Homo sapiens: one gene and its partners. The protein of the gene in region 2 interacts with the protein of the main gene of each other region in a biochemical or structural test. Each region holds a gene or a part of one and is shown on either strand. Other genes may lie near its edges. The genes, in order: MYLK, MLC1 and ROCK1.

What was found.
Region 1: of the proteins of MLC1 (region 2) and MYLK, one has a biochemical effect on the other in vitro, tested with the Homo sapiens proteins (one study listed by BioGRID).
Region 3: of the proteins of MLC1 (region 2) and ROCK1, one has a biochemical effect on the other in vitro, tested with the Homo sapiens proteins (one study listed by BioGRID).

Annotation. Positions count from the first base shown.
Region 1 is NC_000003.12:123,607,586-123,617,246, forward strand, and holds the end of MYLK (myosin light chain kinase, smooth muscle), read right to left. Parts: intron 6,765-9,661; coding exon 6,520-6,764; 3' UTR 2,464-6,519; downstream 1-2,463. UniProt on the Homo sapiens protein: Calcium/calmodulin-dependent myosin light chain kinase implicated in smooth muscle contraction via phosphorylation of myosin light chains (MLC). Also regulates actin-myosin interaction through a non-kinase activity.
Region 2 is NC_000022.11:50,068,427-50,076,394, forward strand, and holds part of MLC1 (membrane protein MLC1), read right to left. Parts: intron 5,907-7,968; coding exon 5,790-5,906; intron 2,158-5,789; coding exon 2,101-2,157; intron 130-2,100; coding exon 7-129; intron 1-6. UniProt on the Homo sapiens protein: Transmembrane protein mainly expressed in brain astrocytes that may play a role in transport across the blood-brain and brain-cerebrospinal fluid barriers. Regulates the response of astrocytes to hypo-osmosis by promoting calcium influx.
Region 3 is NC_000018.10:20,945,874-20,956,750, forward strand, and holds the end of ROCK1 (rho-associated protein kinase 1), read right to left. Parts: intron 9,373-10,877; coding exon 9,294-9,372; intron 9,172-9,293; coding exon 8,910-9,171; intron 7,913-8,909; coding exon 7,705-7,912; intron 5,515-7,704; coding exon 5,511-5,514; 3' UTR 1,033-5,510; downstream 1-1,032. UniProt on the Homo sapiens protein: Protein kinase which is a key regulator of the actin cytoskeleton and cell polarity.

The DNA of each region.
Region 1 (9,661 bases), on a different chromosome or scaffold from region 2:
TATACATTTTATATTATATATACTATACATTTTATATTATATATACTATATATATTTTATATTATATACTATATATTTTATATTATATACTATATATATTTTATATTTTATATACTATATATATTTTACATTTTATATACTATATTTTATATTATATATATATTTTATATATAATATATAAATATAATAATATATTTTATATATAATATATAATATAATATATATGATATATAGTATATATATTTTATATATTATATATAATATATATTTTATATATTATATATAATTTTACATATATAGTTTATTTATATATATATATATATATATATATATATATATATATATATATATATATATTTTTTTTTTTTTTTGGGGACAGCATCTCGCTCAGCCACCCAGGCTGGAGTGCAGTGGTGTGATCTCGGCTCACTGCAACCACTGTCTCCCGGTTTCAAGCAATTCTCCTGTCTCAGCCTCCTTAGTAGCTGGGATTACAGGCACCTGCCATCATGCTCAGCTAATTTTTATATTTTAGTAGAGACAGGGTTTCACCATATTGGCCAGACTGGTCTTGAACTCCTGACCTCAGGTGATCTGCCCACCTCGGCCTCCCAAAGTGCTAGCATTACAAGCACGAGCCACCACACCTAGCCTCCCACCAAATATTTTTCATCTCCAGTTGATTGAATCCATAGATTTGGAATGCATGGATACAGAGGGCTGACTGAATATAACTTTTTCACATATTTGGGGTTTTTTTTTTCCTGCAGAAATGTAATCTGTTCTTTCAGAGTAGAGATTGTTTCTGATACATCTTAGCATCTCTGAGTGCCAGAATGAGGGCGTACCATAAGGTCAGGCACATAGAGCTTGTTTAATCTTTCTATCAAGCCATGAGTGAGGAACTACTATAACTCTAATTTTATAACTGTGGAAACTGAGGCACAAGCTACACAGCTGTAGTAAGAGGTAGAGGTAAGAGGTAGTAACTTATTTTACAGAGGGAATGAAAATGGTGGGTAAGTTGGACAAGTTGGTTCCTAGGATAGCACCAAGAGGAACTGACTCCACTGATTAACCAGGTTAGCTGCCTCCTACCCAAGCACACTGCAGGATTTGCCTTCAGTGACAACATGCAAGGTGCTTTCTGGAGAGGCATATCTGGGACTTCATGGAGCTTGCAGAATCGGTTGTATGGCTGCTGGCTAATAGGTGTTTGACAAGTTTGGCCTGAGACTATCTTTGAAACATACCACCTGAAGCGTGGTTGTGGAGAAGCCCCATAGCTCAATCTTATCTTAACTATTGGAGGCTACTGATACCTGCCTTAAAGATGTTATTAATAATAAATATGAATGACCAAATTGACTTAGGTTAATTTGTAACCTCCTTCTCCCTTAGTTATCTCCAGCCGAAAGAAATCTAGTCTAAGAGAGTCACAAAATATCTTGTGAAAATTTACCACAGGCCTCAAACAGAGACTCGGGGGACTGAAGTCTCTGACATGAAGCGCTTCCTGCAGGGTATAAGCATTTGGAACACGGGTAAGGCCTATGGGCTAAAATCTCCAGCCAGCAGCGGTTAGAAATTCAATGTTGTCCCCAAGCACTTTAGATCTCCTGAGTGTTTTGAATTCCAGTGGGAAGGGAGTTCTGATAAAAGGCAGCTGAGTTTGGAAGGATTGTAGCCTCAGGATGGCTCCTCTGCCTTTTGACCCATGGTTGAGGAAATTCTGCCTCAGCAGCCCTGTCTCCCTTTCTGCATCCATCTCATAGTCCCCACTGGTGATCCCCCATCTCAAGTAGCAAATTCCAAAGACGTTGGAGAATGTTGGCCTTGTTGGTTGTCTCATATCAGAAATAATCTGAGAGTTGCTTGTGAATTGCAGGACTATTTAGATTTTGAGGTCAGAAGCATAGAACTGGTACTTTTTTTTTTTTTTGAGATGGAGTCTCACTCTGTCGCCCAGGCTGGAGTGCAGTGGCGCAATATCCGCTCACTGCAAGCTCTGTCTCCCGGGTTCATGCCATTCTCCTGCCTCAGCCTCCCGAGTAGCTGGGACTACAGGCGCCCGCCATCACGCCCGGCTAATTTTTTGTATTTTTAGTAGAGACGGGGTTTCACCGTGTTAGCCAGGATGGTCTCGATCTCCTGACCTCGTGATCCGCCTGCCTTGGCCTCCCAAAGTGCTGGGATTACAGGCGTGAGCCACCGCGCCTGGCCAGAACTGGTACTTTTAAAATGTCTTTTTATTTTTTAATTAATTTTTTTTAAAGAAATAGAGATGGGGTCTTGCTATGTTGTGCAGGCTGGTCTTGAACTTCTGGCCTCAAGCGATTCTCCTGCCTTGGCCTCCCAAAGTGCTGGGACTACAGGTGTGTACCACTGTACCCAGCCTTTAAAATGTCTTAAAAAGTGAAAAACTATATTTGAATATAAATAAAGAATTAAGAACAACAACACTTGAGTATCGAGACTATATTATCCAATACAATTGATGAAACTATAGACCATACTCTCTAGACTTTCACACAAGCTTTTCAGTTTTAATTTCACATAATTTGAAAAGTGATGTACATGTGACTGTCGAGCATTTGAAATGTAACTCATACAACTGAGGAACTGAATTTTTTATTTTATTTTTTAAAGTAACTTAAATTTAAATAGCCACTTGTGAGTAGTGGCTACCATCCTGGTCACCACACATCCAGAACATGGTGATAAGCCTGTATCAGGATAGTCTAGGTTATGTTGCAGCCACTGAGAACCCCAAAATCTTGGTGATTTATAAGAACAAATGTTTATTTCTTGCTTGTGTTATGTCCCCATTTTGGGTTGGCTAGAGACCCAGATGGCTGCAGCAGCCACCATCTCATGTGTTGCCCGTCATTATGGAGAGGCTTGTACCAGCACATAAATGCTCTGGTCCCGAGGGTACATACATCACTTCTGGTCACAGCTCACTGACTAGGACTAGTCACATGGCCCCATCTAACCAGGAAGCCGAGAGTGAAGCCCTAACTCTGTGCAGAGATCCTTAGCAACAACTGCCACCAACATTAGCCCCCCCTTTCAAATTACAGGAAGGAGTCCCAAGGGATAAAGAGAGTAGTGCTACTTGTGTTTTCTTGAAAAATGGAGAATTGGGTTTCTCACAACTCAATTATTTATTACCTCCTATGTACTTATTAGCACAGATTTATCAAAAACAGGTGAGGTGTGGAGCAAAAAGCAAATTTCAAACATTTTAACAAAAATAAAAAATCTTTACATAAATTTAGAGCTGACAACAGTCAGCATGTCTTATTAGTTGCATGTAGGAAATATCTTTTAATAAGATATGCAATGCAAGGAACAATCAATGGATTATTTTTTATATGTTTGGGATGAAAATGAATGGAAGAAAGTATATCTGTTATTTTTCTCAGTGCAGCATATAAATTGTACATTTTTCACTAGCAAGGAATAAAAAGTCATTTTCTTTAAAAATAATAAATTGTTAGGGACATTTGTGGATTGTGAGTGTCTTAAAAATGAAAACACTAAATATTTATTAACTGGACAATGGATTGTTTCTTTCCAGACTACATCAAAGAATCAGAGAATTATCTAGCCCTACATTTAACAGCATGTCTTAAACTCTTTCTAGACCATCCACAATATTGTTTGAACATCTGAAGACATGGGGAACTTGCCATCTGATATCTGATAACAGACTTCCTGTAAAGCAGGACTGGTAGTTTCCTGATAACAAATTCTTCAATATGAAGGTATGGATAAAGCATTTGGCTGCCAATAATGAACTGCACCAAAGTCACCAATTCAAACCATGCCCTGGTAAATAGTATCATCAGTGATGATGATGATGATGATGATGATAATGTCACATGTTAAAAATGTCATATAGATTTTAGCATCTTGAGGACCTGATACTCTGTAACAGTGGTCCCTAACCTTTTTGGCACCAGGGACCACTTTCATGGAAGACAGTTTTTCCATGGACCAGGAGAGGGGGTGGTTTTGGGATTATTCAAGCACATTACATGTATTGTGCATTTTATTTCTATTATTATTACATTGTAATAATATATTTTATTATAATATAAAATAAGTATACAACTCATCATAATGTAGAATCAGTGGAAGCCCTGAGCTTGTTTTCCTGCAACTAGACTGTCCCATCTAGGGGTGATGGGAGACAGTGACAGATCATCAGGTGTTAGATTCTCATAAGGAGCGTGAAACCTAGATCCCTCACATGAGCAGTTCACAATAGAGTTCGTTCCTGAGAGAACCTGATGCTGCCGCTGATCTGACAGGAGGCAGAGCTCAGGCGGTAATGCGAGCAATGGGGATCGGCTGTAAATATAGATGATGCTTTGCTCACTTGCCCACTGCTAACCTCCTTATGTGTGACCTGGTTCCTAACAGGCTACTTACCGGGGGTTGGGGACACCTGCTCTATAAGATATCCTTCTAGAATGATTGATATAGTACTAAGCTGATGCTCAAGAGAAATTTTGAACTAAATGTGTAAATTCGGCTACCTATATAAACAAGAACTTCCTAAATCATTCTGTTCCATAGCAAAACACAACCACATAAGCCAGTTCTTCACATCTAGGCACCACAGTGTTTGTTTTTCATTTCCAGGATATAGCTGTGTCCTTTACAACTGGTAGCATGGAAAGAAAGAGAAGTCTGCAAAGATTGAACAAACAGCATGCACTGTGGTATCCTTTATTTAAAAATTGTGAGCTGACTACAGTTGTAGTGTTCTCATTTACCATTCTGATGGCATAATAAACCAAGAGAACATTAACACAATTCCAAGAAGGCATTAACCTGTAACACACATATACGCCACACATGCACACACACAACATACACGCACACAAAGGTTATATTCTGAACACAAAAGTGATAGAAAAAAGCTTTGAATGCGCTAAATCAAATAAAAACCCTTTATTATAATAAACTGTGGCAATACTGTGGCTATCATGAAAAATATTGTAACTATTTTAAAAGCAAAAGGAAAAATACTGGCAGTTTGAAACTAGCAGCAAAAAGCAGATAAAAATAGAATGGAAGATAACATAAGACTAATATCAAAATTCTAATGTTGATACTGTGTAGGATTGCACTGAAGTAATTTTAAATTGGTTCTTAAGGAACTCTTAAAAAGTCCCTTAAAAATATTAAATTGTTGCACCTTACAAACAGTGGAAAAGAAAAAAAAAGTATTTGGAATGTTACACACACACACAGAGGAAATGTATTAGGTCTATCATCAATTATGGTCTTTGTTTATGACCTTCAAAAAGCTTTATAAAGAAAAAATTTAAGTGCCAATGTAGTGAAAGAAAGTTAAAAATTCCTAAAGACGCAAGTCTGAGTGCATTTACCAGGTCTAAGAATATATTTAAAGGTTGGGGGCAAGGCATGATTGATGCACATTTAAGAAGAAAAATATGGAACCCATAAGGTAGGTCAAGTTCTTTGGAGAGTGTTGAGAATGAAGATGTATTAAACTCTGGCTATCTTGGAGGAGATTCCAAAGTACATGGAGTTCTCCAGCTCTTTATCAGTTGAAATCTGTTTCATCGTGGCCAATAGATAATTAAGACTAACTTTTCAGCAAACTGATTTCTCCTATATTCAAACACAAAAATCTTTACCACACGTTCAGAGCTGATATTCTATAACAGCACAAATAAGAATCCTGGTTTACAAAGGAAACCACATTAGCAAGGATTTTTTTTTTCCCATGGGTTCTTAACCAAATGTCTGAAGCTGCTAGACATCTGCAAAGAGGGGATAAGTTTAGATTTCCTACTGATTTTGGAAGAAAAATATTTTCCTAAGGAAGCCAGAGTCATCCATGAGCAGGGACCTGTCTTCAGAATCGAAGAAGCATAATGTCCTTAATGCTTACACTCATGACAAGTTGAGAGTCAGCAAAACTGGCAGGTGGAAGGGGAAAGAGAAATGGAGAGTTTGAACATCTGCAGTGTACTTTGGAATAAAGTGGCTCAACTGCTTTCAGAAATGAATTGCTGGAGTACTGGGAGAAAACCCAGTTCTCTAGAGTCAGGGGGTGGGGAGAGAGAGGCCTCCCATCCCCAGGAACCCTCTGGGCTGAGCTGTGGCCCAGAACTCTTGTTTTGGCCTTATTTTTCATGAGCGCATTCAAGTGGAGAATTTATGACTTTGCCCAGATAAATATTTGGTTTGGTTACTTTCTCTCTAAAATCAATTGGTCAGTCAAGTTACTGGTGATTTCCCTAAATGAAATCTAGCTGCACTAGTATCTTAAGGTGCCAACTAACATAGATTAATGCCCATCAATAACGCTGCTAGGTATCAACTGCTGTTTCTGAAGAATCAACCCACAAATGACCTAACCGATAATCTATCACACTAGGTGCTTTTACTATCTTGAGTTTTTTTTTTTTTTTTGAGTTTTAGAGAAATAGTCCTTTTAATATGACTTAGAAACTGCTTTTCTCTGGCTTTGTTTCACTCTTCTTCCTCTTCCCCTTCCCCTTCACCTTCCTCCATCGTTTCCACAATGAGCTCTGCTGTGCAGGTGGCTTCTCCAAGACTGTTGACAGCCTTGCAGGTGTACTTGGCATCGTCATCCCCGCAAACATCACTAATAATTAAAGAGCAGTTCCCGTCCTCATCGTAGTCTATCTGGAAGTGGCGGGACTCCCTGATTGACTGGTCATCTTTGAACCAGACAACCTCGGGGTCTGGGTATCCTGCATCACAGGGAGAGAACACAAGTTGCAGGAACTGTTATTCAAAATTTCTTATCAACTCATGCAAGCAACTTGTAAGCTACCACTATTGATTAAGGTGGTTAAGGAGAAAATTTTGATGTTGGCCTTTATCGACTGTTTTGATATCTACATTAGAATATGGACATGTCTTGTAAATACCAATATCTGAAACCCCAAATAGAATATTTTAAAGTTGTTCCATTTCCCACACATGTTGGACTAGCACCACATCCCACCTATTAAAAAACTTATTTAATAGTTTTTTTATTTTTTTAAAGTGATGAGTCTCACTCTGTTGCCTAGGCTGGAGTGTAGTGGCATGATCGTAGCTTACTGTTGCTCAAATTCCTGGGCTCAAACGATCCTCCCTTCTCAGCCTCCTGAGTAGTGAGACTATAGGCATGAGCGACCGTGCTCAGTTAAACATCACACCTTTCACTTTTTGGGGGGTAGGGGGGCAGGGTCTCATTCTATCACCTAGGCTGGAGTGCAGTGGCATGAACATGGCTCACTGCAGCCTCAACTTCCTGGGCTCAAGTGATCCTCCTCCCTCAGCCTCCCAAGTAGCTGGAGCTATAGGTACATGCCACCATGCCTGGCTAATTTTTTAAAAAGTTTTTTTTTTGTAAAGACAGGGTCTCCCTATGTTGCCCAGGCTGGTCTCAAACTCCTGGGCTCAAGTGATCCTCTGACCTTGACCTCCCAAAGTGCTGGGATTACAGGTGTGAGCCACCACACCCACCCATCTTTAAACAGACATAGAGTACTACCTGAGGCTAGGCATGGTGGCTCATACCTGTAATCCCAGCACTTTGGGAGGCCAAGGTGGGCAGGAGTTCAAGACCAGCTTGGCCAACATGGCAAAAAAATAAAAATTAAAAATAGAGTACTACCTGAAATACTGCTCCAATTCCAACTCTACACCTAGATCTGAATACCTTCTTAGATTGAAAATACAATTTTCTTTTTCCTTTTTTTTTTGAGACAGAGTCTCACTCTGTCGCCCAGGCTGGAGTGCAGTAGCGTGATCTTGGCTCACTGTAACCTCCGCCTCCTTGGTTCAAGTGATTCTTGTGCCTCAGCCTTCTGAGTAGCTGGGATTACAGGTGCACGCCACGACACCCGGCTAATTTTTGTATTTTTAGTAGAGACAGGGTTTCAGCATGTTGACCAGGCTGGTCTGTATCTCCTGACCTCAGGTAATCTGCCTGCCTTGGCCTCCCAAAGTGCTGGGATTACAGGTGTGAGCTACCTGTGCTCGGCCGAAAATACAATTTTCTATCTTTTTTTTTTTTTGAGACAGAGTCTCACTATGTTGCCTAGGCAGGAGTGCAGCAGCATGATCTCGGGTCACTGCAACTTCCAATGTCCAGGCTCAAGTGATCCTTCCACCTCAGCCTACTGCATAGCTCAGACTACAGGTACACACCACCACACCCAGCTAATTTTCGTATTTTTTGTAGAGATAGGGTTTCACCATGTTGCCCAGGCTGGTCTTGATCTCCTGGACTCAAGTGATCTGCCTGCCTTGGCCTTCCAAAGTGTTGGGATTACAGGCGTGAGCCACTATGCCCAGCCTAAATTTTCAATTTTGTATAATAGTTTAAGTGAAATAATTTAAATGAAAAATAAGAGTCAAAACAAAATGGGAACAAGGGATCTTTTTGGAGTGATGAAAATGTTCTAAAATTGGATTGTGGTATAAATTCATTAAAAATAATTGAATTGTGCATTTAAAATAGGTGAATTTTATAGTATATAAATTATAACTGAATAAAGCTAATAACAGCTATATAAAACATAATTTAAAAGAGCTGATAATATTGCTAAGAAGAAGAAAGCAATATTTGTCTTAGTCTGATCCAAAGCAGGTAATTTGCCTATGGACAATTGGAAATGGACCTCACCAATGAGCCTTTATGCATTAGTCATATCTCTGCAAAGTTCAGCATTAAAAAATAAAATACACATGCATATAAAATATATATTATATGTATTTAATGTGTATGTGTACATATATATGTACAGAAGCATTACCAACATTATGCATTTTGTTTGCAGGTACATAGTATATACATGTACCCCGCTTTTAAAGTCATATATATACATACATTTAAAAATATACAATATATTCCACCTGACTTTCTCTTAAATGTTGGTGAAGTATTTTTATAGGAAAAAAATTGTAGCCCTGATACGGTTTGGATATTTGTGCCCCTTGAATCTCATGTTGAAATGTGATCCCCAGTGTTGGAGGTGGGGCCTGGTGGGAGGTGTTTGGGTCATGGAGGCCGATCCCTCATGAATGTCTTGGTGCCCTTCCCGAGGTAATGGGTGAGTTATTGCTCTGTCATTTCATGCGGATCTGGTTGTTAAAACGTGGCACGTCCTTCTCTCTCGCTCTCTCACTTGCCATGTGACATGCCTGCTTCTGCTATGATTAAAAGCATCCTGAGGCCTCACTGGATGCAGATACTGGCACCAAGCCAAATAAGCTTCTTTTCTTTATAAATTTTCCAGCCTCAGGTATTCCTTTATAGCAATGCAAACAGGCTAATATGAGCCCTAACCAGAATAAAAATTATACATAAGAAATCAAGAATTCTAATGTTCTTTTCAATGTTGTTTTTTCAAAATAATTTTAGAAATTGTTTTTTCGAAGTAATTAGGAACACCCAGACCATGAGGAAAATTGGGTCAGGAAGAGCTGGTCATAAAGTACCCTCCACTCCCATGCCCTGCACCCTCAGTGCAAAAGTTTCAATTTTGTTTTTATCAAAACAGCATCCATATGCTTTAATTTCTCATCAGAGCCCCAGGCAAAAGTTACATAAATATCAATGAAACAATTCCAAAGAGAAAATTAAGTACGAAAC
Region 2 (7,968 bases):
ACTCACTTTTATGGCTGGCGGGTAATCCTTAAACATCTCCACGATTCTCATGATGCTGAATGACAGATATCCAGAGGCTGTGAACAGCAGCGGAGACGTGAGGCTGCTTATGGCAATCAGGACCTCCACCTGGAAAAAAAGCGCGGGTTGCAGGACCACGGCCGGAGCCTGGGAGCCCAGGACAGCGGGCGTGGCCAGGGCTGGGGGGGCGGGCATGGCCGGGCACTCATGGGCATAGTCCCAAGCTGGTTCCCTGCATGACTCCTGCTGAAACCTCTGCCTTTTCTTTTTTCTTTTTCTTTTTTTTTTTTTTTTTTTTTGAGACAAGTCTCGCTGTGTCGCCAGGCTGGAATGCAGTGGCATGATCTTGGCTCACTGTAACCTCCGCCTCCCGGGTTCAAGTGATTCTCCTGCCTCAGCCTCCCGAGTAGCTGGGATTACAGGCGCCCGCCACCACACCCAGCTAATTTTTGTATTTTTAGTAGAGACCGTGTTTTGCCACGTTGGTCAGGCTGGTCTTGAACTCCTGACCTCAGGTGATCCACCCACCTCGGCCTCCCAAAGTGCTGTGATTACAGGCATGAGCCACCGCGCCCGGCCTGCCTTTCTTTCTTTTTTGAGAGGCAGCCTAGCTGTGTAGCCCAGGCAGGAGTGCGGTGGCACAATCTCTGATCACTGCAACCTCTGCCTCCTGGGTTCAAGCAATTCTCCCGCCTCGGCCTCTTGAGTAGCTGGGATTACAGACATGCGCCACCACACCTGGCTAATTGTTTTGTATTTTTAGTAGAGACAGGGTTTCACCATATTGTCAGGCTGGTCTTCAACTCCTGACCTTGTGATCCACCCACCTTGGCCTCCCAAAGTGCTGAGATTACAGGCATGAGCAGCCTGCCTTTTCATTCACAGCACAGTGCCACAAGTTTTGAAATACTTACCATCTAGGCAAGGTGGCTCACATCTGTAATCCAAGCACTTTGGGAGGCCGAGGAGGGCGGATCACCTGAGGTCACGAGTTCGAGACCAGCCTGGCCAACATGGTGAAACCCCCATCTCTACTAAAGATACAAAAACTAAGCGGGTGTGGTGGCGCATGCCTGTAGTCCCAGCTACTTGGGAGGCTGAGGCAGGAGAATCGCTTGAACCCGGGAGGCAGAGGTTACAATGAGCTGAGATCGTACCACTGCACTCCAGCCTGGGTGACAGAGCAAGACTCTGTCTCAAACAAACAAAACCAAGAAACAAAAAACATTTACCTGCAATTCTCCACTCTTGAAAAAATAGCCCTTCCGCATGGGTCACCTCCTTCACTGCTCTGAAGTCTGTCCTTTTAACCCACCCCAAATCTTCCTGTTTGACCCATCAAGTCTCAGAGACAGCCTTCACTCATGCCAAGCATGGGCAGTCACCTTGCAAAGCACTCAGGGTCCACATTTTGGCAGCAGTCATTAACGATCGACCAGTTCAATTGTTTGCGGTCAGTTTGTGGCAGTTTCGGCCGGGCGTGGTGGCTCACACCGGTAATCCCAGCACTTTGGGAGGTTGAGGTGAGTGGATCACCTGAGGTCAGGAGTTCGAGACCAGCCTGGCCAACATGGTGAAACCCCGTCTCTACTAAAAATACAAAAATTAGCCGGGCATGGTGGCAGGCGCCTATAATCCCAGCTACTCAGGAGGCTGAGGCAAGAGAATCACTTGAACCCGGGAGGCGGAGGTTGCAGTGAGCCAAGATCGTGCCATTGCACTCCAGCCTGGGGGACAAGAGCGAGACTGCATCTCAAAAAAGAAAAAAAAACAATCGACCAGCCTTAGGAGGTGCAGATGATGCTCAGACACTGGTCTCCTTCCAAGGGTTAGGCACAGAGAGCGCTTCCAGTGTCTACACCACCTTGTTCAGGTCTGCCTGTCCCTGAGAACAGTCCCTGCTGAGCGGGCCAGCCTCCACCTCCCACAACCCCACCTTCCTCATTGTGCAGGCCCTGCAGCCCAGTCACTGCGCTCTCTTGGGCTGGAGCCTGGTCACATGGCACCAAGGGAGGGCTAGGCCAGGCCCTGGCCCCGCTCGGTGGGTCCCTGGCACCCAGGGCTGAGGGGTTCACCCACCAGACACTTGCTGGGACACTCTGCTGCCACATGACTGGCAATGGCACTTGGAAAGCACTAAGAGAAAAGAAAAAGGAAAGATTTTAGAGGAAATAGTCGAAGAAGTCGAATTCCAAACATGTGCCCTCCCACCAGTGACCCCTCCATGCAGGCTGCCTGGCTGGCTTGCTGTGGGGGGCAGGGGGGATGGTGCAGTGCCCAAAGGCGCAGCTGGGGCAGGGACGGGTCCGCAGGGAAGCAGGGGTAGCCTCTCAGAGGTTTTGTGTGCTCTCTGTTCCTCAACCATTGGTTTAAAATTTTAAGCCTGTAGAAAAGCTGCAAGAGCAGTGGAGGGGGCATCTGAGGCCCCAAAATCACCAGAGTCCTTGACATTCATATCTGTGCTCTCTCCAGCTCTCCCAGATAGCCTGATGCCTGAACACCTGAGAGTGCTGGCTGAGCCCAGGGCACACTCTTGCACACACCCAAAGCAGGACCACGCTCGAGAGACTCCACGTGGGGCCGATGTGGTCCATGCCCAGATTCTTCCAGTTGTCCTCATCATGTTCTTTCTTTTTAATTTTTTAATAATTTTTCTTTCTTCTTCTCCTTTTTTTTTTTAAGATGGAGTCTTGCTCTGTCACCCAGGCTGGAGTACGGTGGCGCGATCTTGACTCACTGCAACCTCCACCTCCCAGGTTCAAGCCTCCTGAGTAGCTGGGATTATAGGCACCCACCACTACACCAGGCTAATGTTTGTATTTTTAGTAGAGACGGGGTTTCGCCTTGTTGGCCAGGCTGGTCTCGAACTCCTGACCTCAGGTGATCCGCCCGCCTCGGCCTCCCAAAGTGCTGGGATTACAGGCATGAGCCACCGCACCTGGCCCTGGTCATGTTATTTCTAGAGCTGTTTGTTTGTTTGCTCCTGATCCGGATTCGGTCTGCCATTGAGCTCGTAGTCTCCTTGTGGGTCCCTGTTAATCGGGGAGTCCCTCAGCCTCTGTCACCTCCGTTACCTGGTCGCTTCTGGGGGGTGCAGCCCATCAGCTGCAGTCGGGCCTCCGTGTGGGACAGGATTTCCTCATGATGAGCCTTGGGGAGCCTCGGAGGAGACTCTGCAGTGCCCCAGGGTGTGGACTGCCCCTTCCTGATGACGCTGACTTGACTCACTGGGTTAGGGGGATCTGTAGGTTCCTCTGTTGGATGGGCACCTCTTCCTTTTTATAACCAAGAAATGCCCTTTTCCCACTTATTGTGAGGAGCCTGCCTTAGTTCCGCACAATGTAGGCAGAGGGAGGATGCATGCTCTTCATCCTCTTCATCTCCCCGAAGGTGTCCAGGTGCCAGCACCCCAGCCCGGCCTGCTGGGGAGGGGGCTGCATCAGCCAGGGGCTGTGGTGAGAGGGTGGGCAGGACAGAGATGGGCTCCGAGCAGGGGAGCCTGGGCAGCAGGGAGAAGACTGGGGAGCTGAGGGGCTGCCAGTGCAAAGGCCCCAAGCCAGCTGCTGAGGTGGGTGTGGCCCTGGCCAGGGAGGCTGAGGTGTCAATACAGGGGTCTCTCCTGGGCTTGGTGCTTCTGAAAGGGCCTTCTAGCTGTAAGCAGCAGTGAGGGCACAGGAAGGGATGGTGGCTTCAGGGTGGCCTATTCAGGGCCCCAGTGAGCCATGGGAGGGCGGGAGTTTCCCCGTTCACCCAGCATGGCCACTCCGGCCCCTGCCCTAGAGGGCCAGGAAGCTCAGCCATAGGGGCTGGGGCAGCTCAATCAAGGGCCCTGCCCTGGAAGGGTCCAGGCCTGCAGCCCAGCCCCCAACTCCAGCCCCGAGCACCTGCCTCCAGCCCATGGTGCAGGGCCTGGGCCCCTCTGCCGCACCCAGGCCAGACTCAGGCAGGTGGAGCTGGGTCCCTCACCACGCATGCCTCAGCGCTCTCCTCTCCTCCTGGGGTCTCCTGCCCTGAAGAGAGGGTTGGGAGTGTGGGTGGATTTAGGGGCGCCCAGGGGGCAGCACCTGATGGGCAGGGGGTGCTCTCCGGGAAGATGGAGAGAGCAGAGCCACCCCCGAGGCAGGAGGGGTCTGCGGGATGGGAGGGGCCTCTGTGATGAGGGCTGACTGCAGGGACAGGGAAGGGGGTAGGGCAAGTGCCTTTCATTCTCAACTTTTTGGAGGTATGTGGTCTCTGTCCTCCCTCAGCTTCGGGATGTAATCCCTGCGTTTCAGACCCCAGGGTCAGTTGTACACACCTGCAGGCGTCATTCTCTCTGTCACAGACCCGCTTGGGTGGGCACCCATGTGAGTTCTCTGTCTCAGTAGCTGGGCCTGGTCCTACCCCTTCCGGGGGTGTGGCTCTATCCCAGCTCGGTCCTGCCTGGGTCTCTTTCCCTCTCTGAGCGCCTCAGCAGCCCACTAGGTCGGGCACTGGTGCCCTGGGGGCATTGCTCTGTGCCTACTCGCCCCCACAGGGAGCTGAAACACAGCTGCTGCCAATGGGATGTGTCCACCTGGCAGGCGTGGGCCCCTTCTCGGCAGTCCACCCGGCCACACCGTTCCCGGGCAGGCGTGGGCCCCTTCTCCGCAGTCCACCCGGCCATACCATTCCCGGGCAGGCGTGGGCCCCTTCTCGGCAGTCCACCTGGCCATACTGCTCCCAGGCAGGCATGGGCCTCGGCAGCTTCAGGAAGAGCCCCACTGCTGCCCAGGAGGAGCCTGTAGCTGATGCTGGGTGCTCACCATTCCTGCTCATGTACATAAGAGAGCAGGGGCAAAATCTAAAAGTCCACACAGCATGAGACAAACCAGGGGCTGGCCGTCAACACCGGTGTGCAGGCCACTACGCGGCAAGGTGCTGAGAACCTCGTGGGGTCTGCGTCCGGAGGCAGGTGGGTGGTGGCTCTGGGTGGGCTACAGGCTGTGAGGGGATCTGGGGTGTGGAGGGGTTGCTCTAGACTCACTGTTCTGAGGGAACACACCTGTAATCCCAGCACTTTTGGGGGCCGAGGCAGGCAGATCACTTGAGGTCAGGAGTTCAAGACCAGCCTGGCCAACATGGCAAAACCCGGTCTCTACTAAAAATACAAAAAAATTAGCTGGGCATGGTGGTCCACGCCTGTAATCCCAGCTACTTGGGAGGCTGAGGTGGGCAAATTACTTGAACCCGGGGAGGGGCAGAGGTTGTAGTGAGGTGATATTGAGCCACTGCACTCCAGCCTGGGTGGCAGAGTGAGACTCCATCTCAAAAAAATAAATAAATAAAATAAATAAAACAATGCCCATGTATTGAGCATGTGGCATGTGTCAGGTGCTGTGTGACACATCTGCTGCAGTAACATTTAATGTAAAGTAATAACAGAAATATGCTGCATTGTATGAAACACATAGTGTAATATAAATGCATTATATATTAGAAAATTATATAGAATAATAAACATCTACAGCCTGACATTCATATGTTAAAAAGATTAGAATAATAAAAATAATTGGTATTTTTTTCAGGAAAAATAATATAAAATAATCACACAAACTAATATAAAAGCAGTTAATACTTTGACTCATTTAATCCTTAACTCCCCAGTTCTTCTGAAGTTGGGGGCCAGCGAGGACCCTCTGTGGTGACTCTCTGTCTGAATGCACCAAGACTGAGCTCGGGGCCCAGCCACGCAGGATCTGAGCAGTGTGGCCCAGAGCGGCGGCGGGCGGGCCAGAGGGGTTACTCACGGCCACTAGGATCCAAAAGAACGTCACTGAGAGGTGTGGGCCTGAAACTGAGTCATCCACGTTCAGGGCAATGATCCCCCCGAGGACGGCAGAGATGCCTGCGATTACCTCGACGACCTGGAGGGGACAGGACAGCATCGGCTCATAAGGAAGTGGAGACACCCCCAGATTCCCAGAATGCACTGTGCAGACATGGACCCCCAGGAGCAGGGTCCAGTGGGCTGGCCCCAGATCTAACCGTGGAGGAGCCCACCTGGATGGACCCCCAGCCTCACCTGGCCCAGACCCCCTCTGCCCTCAGCTGCGGCTTTTCACGTCCCTCCTGGAGTAAAATAGCCAAAGAGGTGTTTCCCCCACTGCTGCTTTTGTCCACAGAAACTGAGGGTATTGACCTGACAGTGGTGAGGGCAGAAAACCAAGACCCTCAGACTCCCTTCCCTGTCTCACAGTGTGGCAGGCGGCGGTGCTCAGACCCTGGACCCCATCGAAGGGACTCGGGAAAACAGGCCTGGGGCAGAAGTAGCTTCCCATAGGACACACCCACCCGTGCCATGTGGGTTTGCCATTGCCACGGCAACACTGGACGTCACCACCCCTTTCCGTGGCAATGATCCAACCACCTGGACGTTAGCACCCCTTTTCTAGAAATTTCTGCATAATCTGCCCCTTAATTAGCATATACTTAAAAGTGGGTATAAATAGGAGGCAGAGCTGTCTCTGAGCTGCTGCTCGAGGCACCTGCCGGTTGGAGAGCCCTGCTATACTGCCACTGCAAACAAAGCTGCTGTCTGTCACCTCCAGCTCGCCCTTGAATTCTTTCCTGGACAAAGCCAAGAACCCTGCTGGCCTAAGCCCTGGTTGTGGACTCATCTGCCCGGCACCATCAGGGCCGCAACCAGCACCGCCAGACTCAGGGAGGGGCCGCAACCAGCACCGCCAGACTCAGGGAGGGGCCGCAACCAGCACCGCCAGACTCAGGGAGGGGCCGCAACCAGCACCGCCAGACTCAGGGAGGGCTGGGGAAGAAACACACGCCCGAAAACCTGCTCCCGTGAAGGATCTCTGTGAGTCGCAAACACAGAGCTGTGGCCAGCAGGAAAGCCAGGCATAAGGAGTGGGCCAGCAAGGGCTTGGGGGCCGGAAGGGACCTGGGCAGCCAGGCCTTGCGTCCAGAAGGCACAAAACTCCAGATGCACAAATAAAGCTGAATTCCCAGCCAGGCACGGCGGCTCATGCCTGTAATCCTAGCACTTTGGGAGGCCGAGGCAGACGGATCGTGAGGTCAGGAGTTTGAGTACAGCCTGGCCAACATGGTAAACCCCGTCTCTACTAAAAATAACAAAAATTAGCTGGGCGTGGTGGCGGGCACCTGTAATCCCAGCTACTCGGGAGGCTGAGGCGGGAGAATCGCTTCAACTCAGGAGGCAGAGGTTGCAGTGAACCAAGATCACACCACTGCACTCTAGCCTGGGCAACAGCAGGACTCCATCTCAAAAAAAAAGGAAAAAAAAAAAAGAAGCAGAACGGAAATGGAACCTAAGAGAGGACTGAAATGCTAAATAAGGGGAAGTGAAGGCACTGGGAAACACACACAGACACAGTCAAGCACACAGGAGGCTGTCCCATTGTTGGAGTAAAAAGGCAAAATGTCACTAAATGTCACAAGCTAGACAACAAGGCCAAGGCGGAGGGAAGGGGGACAGACCCCGCATGGTCTGTTTATCAAGGAGCGTATTAGAATATGAAGGGCAACCCCCAAAAGAATACTGAAAAATTTCCCATCCAAAATTAGAGGGAAAAGGAAGGACGGAGCCTCTGCCAATTCAAAAGAAGGCAGGGAAGGAGGGAAAAAGGCAAAATCAGGGAAAATGGAAAACTCAAAAGATGGTAAAAATAAGTAGAAATTTATCAGTAATAACTCTCAGAGGAAATGGGCTACATTCAAAAAGCTAGGGAGAGAGAATGACAAGATAAAGAACAAAATACAGTTACGTGCTGCTTATAACAATTATACCAAAGTACAAGGCAAGAAAAGTTGAAAGTAAGAAGGAGAAAGAGGCCAGGTGCGGTGGCTCACACCTGTAATCCCAGCACTTTGGAAGGCCTGGGTGGGTGGATCACTTGAGGTCAGGAGTTCGAGACCAGCCTGGCCAACATGCCGAAACCCTGCCTCTACTAA
Region 3 (10,877 bases), on a different chromosome or scaffold from region 2:
GTTTTAACCTTGAAACATCTTAATTTCAAGATCTTGAGGTAATAACGTAGTGGAAACATTTTTTTTTCTTTTCTAGTTTTGACCTCCTTTATGCCTACTCTTAGATGGCCCCTCTTGTGATTAATTGACATATTTTGAATGAGAATTAGGCCTGAGCAGAGTTAGCAAATGTGTTGCACACAGCACAGAACTTACATCAACCAGAACTAATGAAACCTTGGCCAAGAGTGAGTAAATCTAAGAAACATCCATTCAGGCTGGGCATGGTGGCTCACGCCTATAATCTCAGCACTTTGGGAGGCTGAGGTGGGTGGATCACAAGGTCAGGAGTTCGAGACCAGCCTGGCCAACATGGCGAAACCCCGTCTCTACTAAAAATACAAAAATTAGCTGGGCATAGTGGCAGGCGCCTGTAATCCCAGCTACTCGGGAGGCTGAGGCAGGAGAACTGCTTGAACCCGGGAGGTGGAGGTTGTAATGAGCCAAGATCGCACCACTGCACTCCAGCCTGGCAACAAGAGCAAGACTCCATTTCAAAACAAAACAAAACAAACCAGAAACATCCATTCGGCCTAAGTAGAAGGAAGATCCAAAATATTTCCTTTTACCCAGCTGGGCCCATATTATATTTCTGCCACATTATTTGGTTGTAGACTTTATTTATTTATTTATTTATTTAGATGGAGTTTCTCTCTGTCGCCCAGGATGGAGTGCAGTGGTGTGATCTCGGCTCACTGCAAGCTCCGCCTTGTGAGTTCACGCCATTCTCCTGCCTCAGCCTCCCGAGTAGTTGGGACTACAGGCGCCCACCACCACGCCTGGCTAATTTTGTTTTTGTATTTTTAGTAAAAATGGGGTTTCACCATGTTAGCCAGGCTGGTCTCAATCTCCTGACCTGGTGATGTGCCCACCTTGGCCTCCCAAAGTGCTGGGATTACAGGCGTGAGCCACTGTGCCCGGCCGGTTGTAGACTTTCTTAAATAACTAGTCTAAGTGAAAGTTAGATTCTACACTCACAGTTATCCAGGCAAATGAACCACTTAATTCAATTTAATAGCCAAACCATCCTACATGGTACAAGAAACCAATTTATAGGATTAACATACAAGTGTCACTTTATTCACAATCTTTGCATTATACACTTTATTTCTAAGCATTTATATTTTTTCCCTTGAATCTCCAACATCTCAAATACTTTATGGGAAACAGTATAGCTTGGGAGAAAGTATCATATCTTAATTCTCATAAGACAATTCATTAACATTTGGCAAAAGAAAGGAGATATTTAATCTCTTTGTATGTTAGACTTTCAATATGTGAAGTGGAATTAATGTTATTCTTTTCCTACCTCACAAAAATCTGAGTTACATATACTTTGGAGATAATCCATTAGAAAACACAGCTAACTGTTAATAACAGTTATGAAGGAATTGGTGGGGTGGGGTGGGGTTTAGGAAGTGCAGACTGACTTTCTACTAGAATATTCTTTGCATTTAATTTATTGCAATAAGCATAGATCTTGTCCAGAAAAAAAACACTAAAAGCATAAAAGATTTGGCAGTAAATATATCTAGGCCATTGAGCATGGCTTTATATATACATACTATCCAACCAGAAATTGATTTGAACAGTAAACATTATAAAAACAAAGAATAATTGTGATTAAGATTTCCAAGTGTCAGGCCAGGCACGGTGGCCTACACCTGTAATGAGAGAGTAAAACTGCTTGAGGCTAGGAGTTAGAGACCACCCTGGGCAACATAATCTCATCGGATTGTCATTATATGACTATTTATTAACCTAATGATCAACTTTAAAAATCATTTGTTTATTTAAAAAAACCATTTCCGTTTATTCATGTCTTTTTAAACTTCTCCAAATGTCTTACAATTTTCTTGGTGGAGGTCGTATACATCTTTCAGTAGATTGTTTTTAAATTTATATGGGAATGCAACCAGGCGCGGTGGCTCATGCCTGTAATCCCAGCACTTTGGGAGGCCAAGGTGGGTGTGGATCACCTGAGGTCAGGAGTTCAAGACCAGGCTGGCCAACATGGTGAAACCCTGTCTCTACTAAAAATACAAAAATTAGCTGGGCATGGTGGTGGGCACCTGTAATCCCAGCTACTCGGGAGTCTGAGGCAGGAGGATCACTTGAACCTGGGAGGCGGAGGTTGCAGTGAGCCGAGATCGCGCCACTGCACTCCAGCCTGGGCAACAAGAGCGAAACTTCGTTTCAAAACAAAAATAAAAAATTATATGGAAATGCAAAAGGCCAAGAATAGCCAAGCCAATTGGGAGGGATTACAAAGTTGGACTTCTACTACAGATATAAAATCTTATTATAAAGTTACAGTAATTAAAAGTGTGATATTGGCAAGGACACAGAAATAACACCAATGGATTGTTCACCTGAATTACGATGCAGGAAAGAAGTATTTTCAATGAATACTGCAGTATCAACTGAATATCCATATGGGAGAAATACTGCTTGATCTCTACCTCACTCTGAATTCCAGATTGATTATAGAACTGTGAAAGTTAACTATGAATTACAAACTCAAGTAACTATGAGTTTGTCATTTAAGTTCTTTTACTTATTTTTTTTACTTTAAATGAAGGGTGAATGGGTTAATTTAAGCTGAAACCCCAAATGACAGGTCATGAGTGAACCTGTGAATAATGACAGTGGCTATGTTTTCTTTGTTGCCCAAAGCTGGAGTTCCTGATCTCAGAGAAGCTTACAGGTGTGGGTGCATGGGCTAACTCAATGCTGAACCTTCATTCCACACTCCTAGTGTGTCCTCCTGTAACAAATTAGAGAGAAAGCTAGAGGCTATATTTCTCAGACTTTCTTGCAGCTAGGGGTCTGGATGTGATTTAATTTTGGCCACGTAGATGCACCTAGAGAAGGCAGACGTGAGATGCAGGCTGTGCTAAATGCCAGCAAGCAGGGTCATGGAAGTGCCTTTTCTGAGGCAGTGTGCAGACATGAGGTTCTTAAGTGGCAAGAGGAATGGTACAAAACATCTAACTGGAGGTAGATTGTAGCAAGCCTGACAAGTGTTGCAGAGAACCAGCAGTGGTAGTGTGGATTCCTGATTATGGCACTATCTGGACCCTCTCAATATTGGTATACTTGGGAGTGAGTGGTTTCCTGAACTTAGAAGAGGAAGCAGCTCTCCTGGTTGACCCAGTTCTGTAATGTGGCATTGGGAGTGATTCCTCAAAGCTCTCTCAGTTCTCAACAATTCTAAGTTCAGATTAGTATGTCATTTGGAAAGTCTTCTCTTGCTTAAACTAATTAGAATTAACTCTGTTCTCTGCAACTGGACCTTAAAATATTAGGTAATGGTGATGAGTCTGAGAAGGTAGTAAGGACACCGTCAGGAACTGTGCTGAGATTTTATCCTGTTTGCATGCTGCCAGTCACAGTTTCATGGATCCTGACAAAAGAGATGAGACCCCTGGGTCAGAGTCAGATGACTTCATTCACAGCACAGCAAAAGCAGCATAAGTTTCACGTTCCATCAGTTCCCTTTGCCCTCCAAGCCCCATGTGGGCAATGCAGAGTGGCCCAGGTGGGTGCTGAGCACACAGTGGGTTTGCATCATAGGTGGGAGACGTTATCTTTATTATACTGGACAGTAAAAGAACCCGACATCCTCACAAGGGAGAACTCTATCTTCCAAGGCTGTTTACTACATAAATATCCTTGGAAAAGATAGTCAAAAGAAAGGTTGTCAGAGCCTCTGCTTCCCTGATGTGTAGAAATGCAAGAGACCCATGGAGAATTGTTTTCCAACACACTTTAGCCAGCTTTTCATGTGAACTATTCCCACTCTTGTTTTAGAGCCCAAGACCACGTTTTATCTTTTAAAAATACACTTTAATCTAACCATGGAATTTCACAAACATTTATATACAATCAGAGACTAATTTGAAGTATGTTTTCCATTCATTTCAGCCATGAGAAAACACATTGCAGTAAAAATTAAAGATACCCATCCATAAATTACTTTTATTTCTCATTAAATGAGCACAGAGTCATTAGTATATTAATAACAGATATGTTTATTATTACATATCCATCAGTGCGGCTTTCAATACCACTTGAAACATGCATATCATCCTAGAGACGATCGGTTTTCCAGTGCTTCTTATCTGATACACATTACTGCAAAGCCATTATAAATTACTGAGGAGGTATTTGGTTAAAAAAATAAACAATAAATCATACTGTCCATATGAATCAACTCTTGTTACTGGACAAGAGTTTAACAGTATTTATCTGGTAATTCCTATGTTAACTGGAAAACATCATGGATGTATTGCCATATTTCCTTTTTATGTTGGTGCAACCTTCTACATTTTTTGCAGTTTTATAAAGTCATTATTGTAGCAGGTAGTTTGATGCAAAGATTGTACTCAATTTATGAAAGTCCAACAAACCTCTAAATATTTTAAATTAAACCAATTATCAATGAAAAACTCACTGACACACATAATTTTTTGAAAATACATTTTTTGAAATTTCTATACTTACTCATGGCAGTAAAATAATTATCTCAAATTAAGGCACTAAAAGGACAATGCAACCCCCATTGAAAGTGTTCTAAGAATAATTTACATTTCAAACAGTGCATACATTTCTTATATGTTTGTTAACTTAATGTCTTTATCATTTAAAACCACAAAGAAATACATTATACAATTATAGAAATGATGTACCCCACAAAATGCTTTTAAACTTGGTTCTTTTGTACAGTTAGTTTCCTAATGTCTCTAGTAGTAAAATAACTCAATATGGCTTGGCAAAAATGCATAGATTAAATGTAACTTTTTTTTGTCCTCTCCCATTCCCCAAACTTGCTGAAACATATACAGTATTTTGTAAAGCATAATGAAAGATATTTAATTTCTCCATCAAGTCCAACATGGGCAATCAACAGTAAGGCTTTTAAATTCTACAGTGAGGGCACTGAAGTTCAAGTGATATCACTGCTTTCTTAAAATAGTTTTGTATAGTCTTGCAAGAGCACAAAAACTTAAGTCATTAAAAAAAAAACAAAACTTCAGTTTGTCTCATTTTGAGATATTTTCTTTACTCCTTCCATGAGCTGATCTTGATAGTGATGGCTGTTCCACTTGAAAGTGAAAGTCCCTTCCTCTTACTCATATGAGGAAAACTCTGTTCTATCACGACTGACAGGCATTTTCTTATAAATCCAAAAAGGCAGCACCTTTTAAAAAAAATATATCTACCTAAGCTTTCCCCCAACTGTACTTGCATTACATAGTAATAATTAATCTAATCTACCTGTAGGCAAACCCGCAATAAAAAAAACCCTCAGTGTGTTGTGCCAAAGCAAGGACAGAAAAACAGCAATCTTAACCCTGAAGCCTGTGATATTTGTGTCAAAGAAACAGCCTGTCTGCTCTGCATGGTTAAAGAAGCCTGGTTTATCAGGTAGCATCCCACACGATTCCACAGGGCACTCAGTCACATGGTTAACTGTTGAGGGAGGGGGAAAAAACTAATTTAAGAAATGCACTCAGTTTAAAAATACAAGAAACAAACATTAGGAGGAAAGGTAAATATACATTATCTTTACATAAAATAATTAACAATTACACAAAATTTGGAAAACAAGGAATAGGAAAAATATACTTAGTATTCTCTCCTCTTTGTTTCTACACATTTTCTTACTCAGCTATAATCTCATTTCAAATCATTTTAGATCCAGTTTACAACCTATGCTCAGGAGAAGGCTGACATAGCATTCTACAGAATTAAGTTAGCAGTAAGGTGATAATACCTGGCATAGTATGGTGGCTGAGAAAGGAAAGGATATAAGTCATTTCAAAGAATTAGGCCTGGTTACTGACAATAGGGCATGAACAAAAGGGATGAATTCAAGATGGCTTTAAGCCTGCTTGGAAGATGTAGGTGACATTGGCAGCGAGGCAAATCAGTGTTAGGTCTCAGCTTCTAATTCGAGTGGCCCTATTAATCTAGGGAGTACACTCTAGGGAAGGTGGTATGTGGTAGAATAGAGGCTTTGGAATTGGACAACATAGGCTTTAGAATTGGACAGAAATGGTTTCCAATCCATTGGCTGTGTGATTGAGCAAACTGCTTAATTTCTCTGAGCCTTATTTACTAATGTGTAAAATGAGAACTTAATGAGATGAGATTTCATTATTTCTCTCCAAGAAAGAGTTAACTGCCTGGTGCGGTGGCTCATGCCTGTAATCGCAGCACTTTGGGAGGCCCAGGAAGGTGCATCACCTGAGGTCAGGAGTTCAAGACCAGCCTGGCCAACATGTTAAACTCCATCTCTACTAAAAATACAAAAATTAGCAGGCCGTGGTGGCATGTGCCTGTAATTCCAGCTACTCAGGAGGCTGAGGTGGGAGAATAGCTTGAACCTGGGAGGCAGAGGTTGCAGTGAGCTGAGATTGCGCCACTGCACTCTGGCCTGGGTGACAGAGCGAGACTCTGTCTCAAAATGAATGAATGAATGAATGAATGAATGAATGAATGAATGGTTATGCCTTATAATTGTTTATCATGGCATAAAACATATTTTTGGAAAAAAGTCCATCAAAAATAGTTAAACAGCCAGGCATGGTGGCTCACGCCTGTAATCCCAGCACTTTGGGAGGCTGGGGCATGCAGATCATTTGAGGTCAGGAGTTTGAGATCAGCCTGGCCAACATGATGAAACCCTCTCTCTACTAAAAATACAAAAATTAGCCAGGCGTGGCATGCGTCTGTAATCCCCGCTACTTGGGAGGCTGAGGCTGGAGAATTGCTTGAACTTGGGAGGTGGAGGTTGCAGTGAGCTGAGATAGCGCCACCACTGCACTCCAGCCTGGGTGACAGAGTGAGACTCTGTCTCAAAAAACAAAAAAAAAAAGGGGGTCATGAGTTCACATCCTTTGAAGGGACATGGATGAAGCTGGAAACCATCATTCTCAGCAAACTAACACAGGAATAGAAAACCAAACACCACAGGTTCTCACTCGTAAGTGGGAGTTGAACAATGAGAAAACATGGACACAGGGAGGGGAACGTCACGCACCAGGGCCTGTCGAGGGATGGGGGGCTAGGGCAGGGATAGCATTAGGAGAAATACCTAATGTAGATGATGGGTTGATGGGTGCAGCAAACCACCATGGCACGTGTATACCCATGTAACAAACCTGCATGTTCTGCACATATATCCCAGAACTTAAAGTATAATAATTAAAAAAACATAGTCACTGATAATACCAAATAATTTTGTATGTTGGGATAGTATGGGAAGTTAACAAAAAAGGGAAAAACAATTTTGGTTTTTGTAGAAAAACTATGCCAACACAGTTAAAAAACAGAAAAGATGATGAAAAGTTTTATATGAATTTCTGCATTAAAAAAATTAAGTTGGTTAAAGCATTAAGGGCTAAAACTATGCCATGTACAGCAACTTATGACAATAAAATTAGACACAGAACTAAATAAATATAATATTGCATGTATTATTATTATTAAACTCTAACAAGAATAAGTTAAACTAATTTATAAAGTCACTGCAATTCACATACAAATACCTAAAAATGATGCCCTCTGTGGTGAAAAGCACAATTAGATTTCTGATTTTAATAGCTGTTATCCAATCATTTTCACATTGTTAAAAACGTTAGCATTTCAAATCCTTACCTAGTTTTTCCAGATGTATTTTTGACCACTTTCCGGAAAGACTGATTTGCAGTGGATCTTGTAGAAAGCGTTCGAGGGGAAGCACGAACAAAACCAGATGGTGGATTCTTAGGGATTTTCTTTACTAAATGAGTTACCCATTTTTTTTGTTCATCCTGAGAACATGCTAACAGCAGCATATCTCTTGCTGATGTTACATCATAACTTACTATGTTAAGGAGGAAAAAAAAAGCATAATTAAAGCCATATAGTTTTTTAAAATCCAACCTATCAAATGCATAGTTTTTCAAGTTCTTAAGGTTTTAAAAGTTTTAATATGCTTAATTAAGCATGAACAATATCTCATTCTCCTTAAGTTAAATAAGGCTGAAATTAAAAAAAAAAATTAGTCAAACTAATAAAGTAAAATCAGAAATATAACAAAATGTAAAACAAATAAATGTATTTAAAGAACATAAGCTTCTTATCTGAAAATAGCTATGGTCTGTATTCTTTCCCTCAAGCTACCTCTGTAAAACTAGAAGATATTCTGTGATACAGCATGCATGCTGATCCAGGCAGTGAATGCCAGACAAAAAGAAGAGGAAAAACTCAAGGGAGGAATAGAGTGGAACTCACCTGTTGCTCTTCTCTCCAACTTGGAATAATTTCTTAGCAGCATGTTTGTTTGTTTTTGTTTGTTTACAAGGGGGTGATTCTCTTTAAAAACACTGTTGGCCGGGCGTGCAATGGCTCACACCTGTAATCCCAGCACTTTGGGAGGCCGAGGTGGGTGGATCACCTGATGTCAGGAGTTCGAAACCAGCCTGGACAACATGGTGAAACTCCATCTCTACTAAAAATACAAAATTAGCCGGGTGTGGTGGCACACGCCTATAGTCCCAGCTACTCAGGAGGCTGAGATAGGAGAATCACTTGAACCTGGGAGGCAGAGGCTGCAGTGAGCTGAGATCACGCCACTGCACTCCAGCCTGGGCGAGACAGAGTGAGAATCCATCTCAATCAATCAGTCAATCAATAAAAATAAATAAAAACATTTTTAAAAGCTAAATCTGTAAATAGCTGCATATTGCCCCACCAGTGTCAAAATAATACTTTCTATAATCTCTTTTCAACTTGGTATAGAAATCACTACACATAAGTTAGTTCATTGAGACTTAAAATTAAATTTGTTATAAGTTGTAACAATAATTACCATGCCTTACCTTTACATGGACAAATTAAGTCCTCTTTCTTATCTAAGTGATCTCTGTGGCACTTAACATGGCATCTTCGACACTCTAGGGCAGGGGGTGGCTTAAAAACATGCCAGAGAGGTTTGGCACAGGCATCACAATTGGCAGGAAAGTGGTAGAGTGTAGGAATAAACTCATGGCCTTTGTGATTTTGGAAATTAGTTTTTTCAGCTTGTTGTACTGGTTCCATCTCTACATCTTTTCTACATTCACCTTCATTTGCATATAGTATCTACATTCAGGAATGGTGAAAGGAAAAGATTTTAAAAATCTTAAGCATTGGTATATTTTACATTTACTTCACAAAAACGCTTAGGACTTAGATTCTTTAAAATTATAACTTCAGATTTTTACCTGGAATATTTTAGGAATTTCTTCAGTTTCAGCTCTATACACATCTCCTTGGGTTACAGGTCTAACGTGAAACAGTTTACTAAAATGAAAATAAATACAGGCCATTTACAAAAACTCATTTATTGTAAAAGACATTTCACTAAAGAGGACATATGGGTGATAAATAAGCACACAAAAAGATATTCAACATCATCAGTCATTAGAGAAATGCAAATTAAAACCACAATAAGTGTCACTACACATCTATCAGAGTTAAAAAAAATAAAAACAGTAGTAACATCAAATGCTTGTGAGAATGCAGAGAAAGTAAATCACTCATATACTGCTGATGGAAACATAAAATTACACAGCCACTCTGGAAAAAGAATATGGCAATTTCTTAGAAAACTAAACATATGCTTACCATATAACCCAGCAAATTGCACTGTTGGGCCTTTAATTTCAAGAAACAAAAATTCATATAACATTTTATATCTATTTAAAAAAACCTGCACATAGATGTTCATAGGAGCTTTATTCATAATAACCAAAACCTAGAAACAACCCAAATAAATGGGTAAGCAAACTGTGATACATCTATACTATGGAATACTACTCAACAAGAAAAAAACAAATTATACTTGGATTGATCTTAAGGGAATTATACTGAATGGGAAAAAAAGCTGATCAGAAAAGATTACACATTATTTGATTCCATTCATATAACACTCTTGAAGAGACAAAATTATGGAGATGGAGAACAGATTAATGTTGCTATGGATTAGGGAGAGGTGGAGGAAGGAAGCTGCCTTTTGACTACAAAAGGAGTAGCACAGGGACACTTGTGATGGAATTGTTCTGTATTTTGAGTGTGGTGGTGGTCATACAAATCTATACACGTGAGAAAGGCATACAGATTGGAAAGAAAGGAGTAAAACTCTTTATTTGGCGATGACATGATTGTATGCAGTTGTCTCGTGGTATCTGTGGCAGATTGGTCCCAGGACCCAGGAGGATTTTGAAGAGAGAGAGTGAAAGAGAAAGAGAGAGAAAGAGAGGGAAGGAGGGAAGAGACAGGAAAAAAAGAAAAGATAAGAAATGGTGTAGTATTTGTATATAACCTAAGTACACCTTCCTGTATATTTAAAATTGTCTCTAGATAATATCTAATATAATGTAAATGCTATGGAAATTGTTATTATATTATATTGTTTAGAGAAAAACAAAACTGTACATATTAAGTACAGACACAACCACAATAGGCCTAACTACATTTTCAATCCATGTTTGGATGAATATACAGATGCAGAACCCATGGATACAGAGGGCTGACTGTGTGTAGAAAAGCTCTGTGGAATTGATCCCAAAACCCCACAACCCTATAAAACTGTTAAGTGCAAAGCAAGATTAAATGATTCAAGGTCAACATATAAAAACAAATACTGTTGGAACAACCAGATACCTATGTGGGGGGAAAAAAGCCAACCTGACCTAAACATCCACCTCTTACCAAACACAGACCACAAAAGGCAGAAAACATTTTAAAAATTGGTACACTGATCCTCATTAAAAGACACCATTAACAAAATCAACAGGTAAGCAACA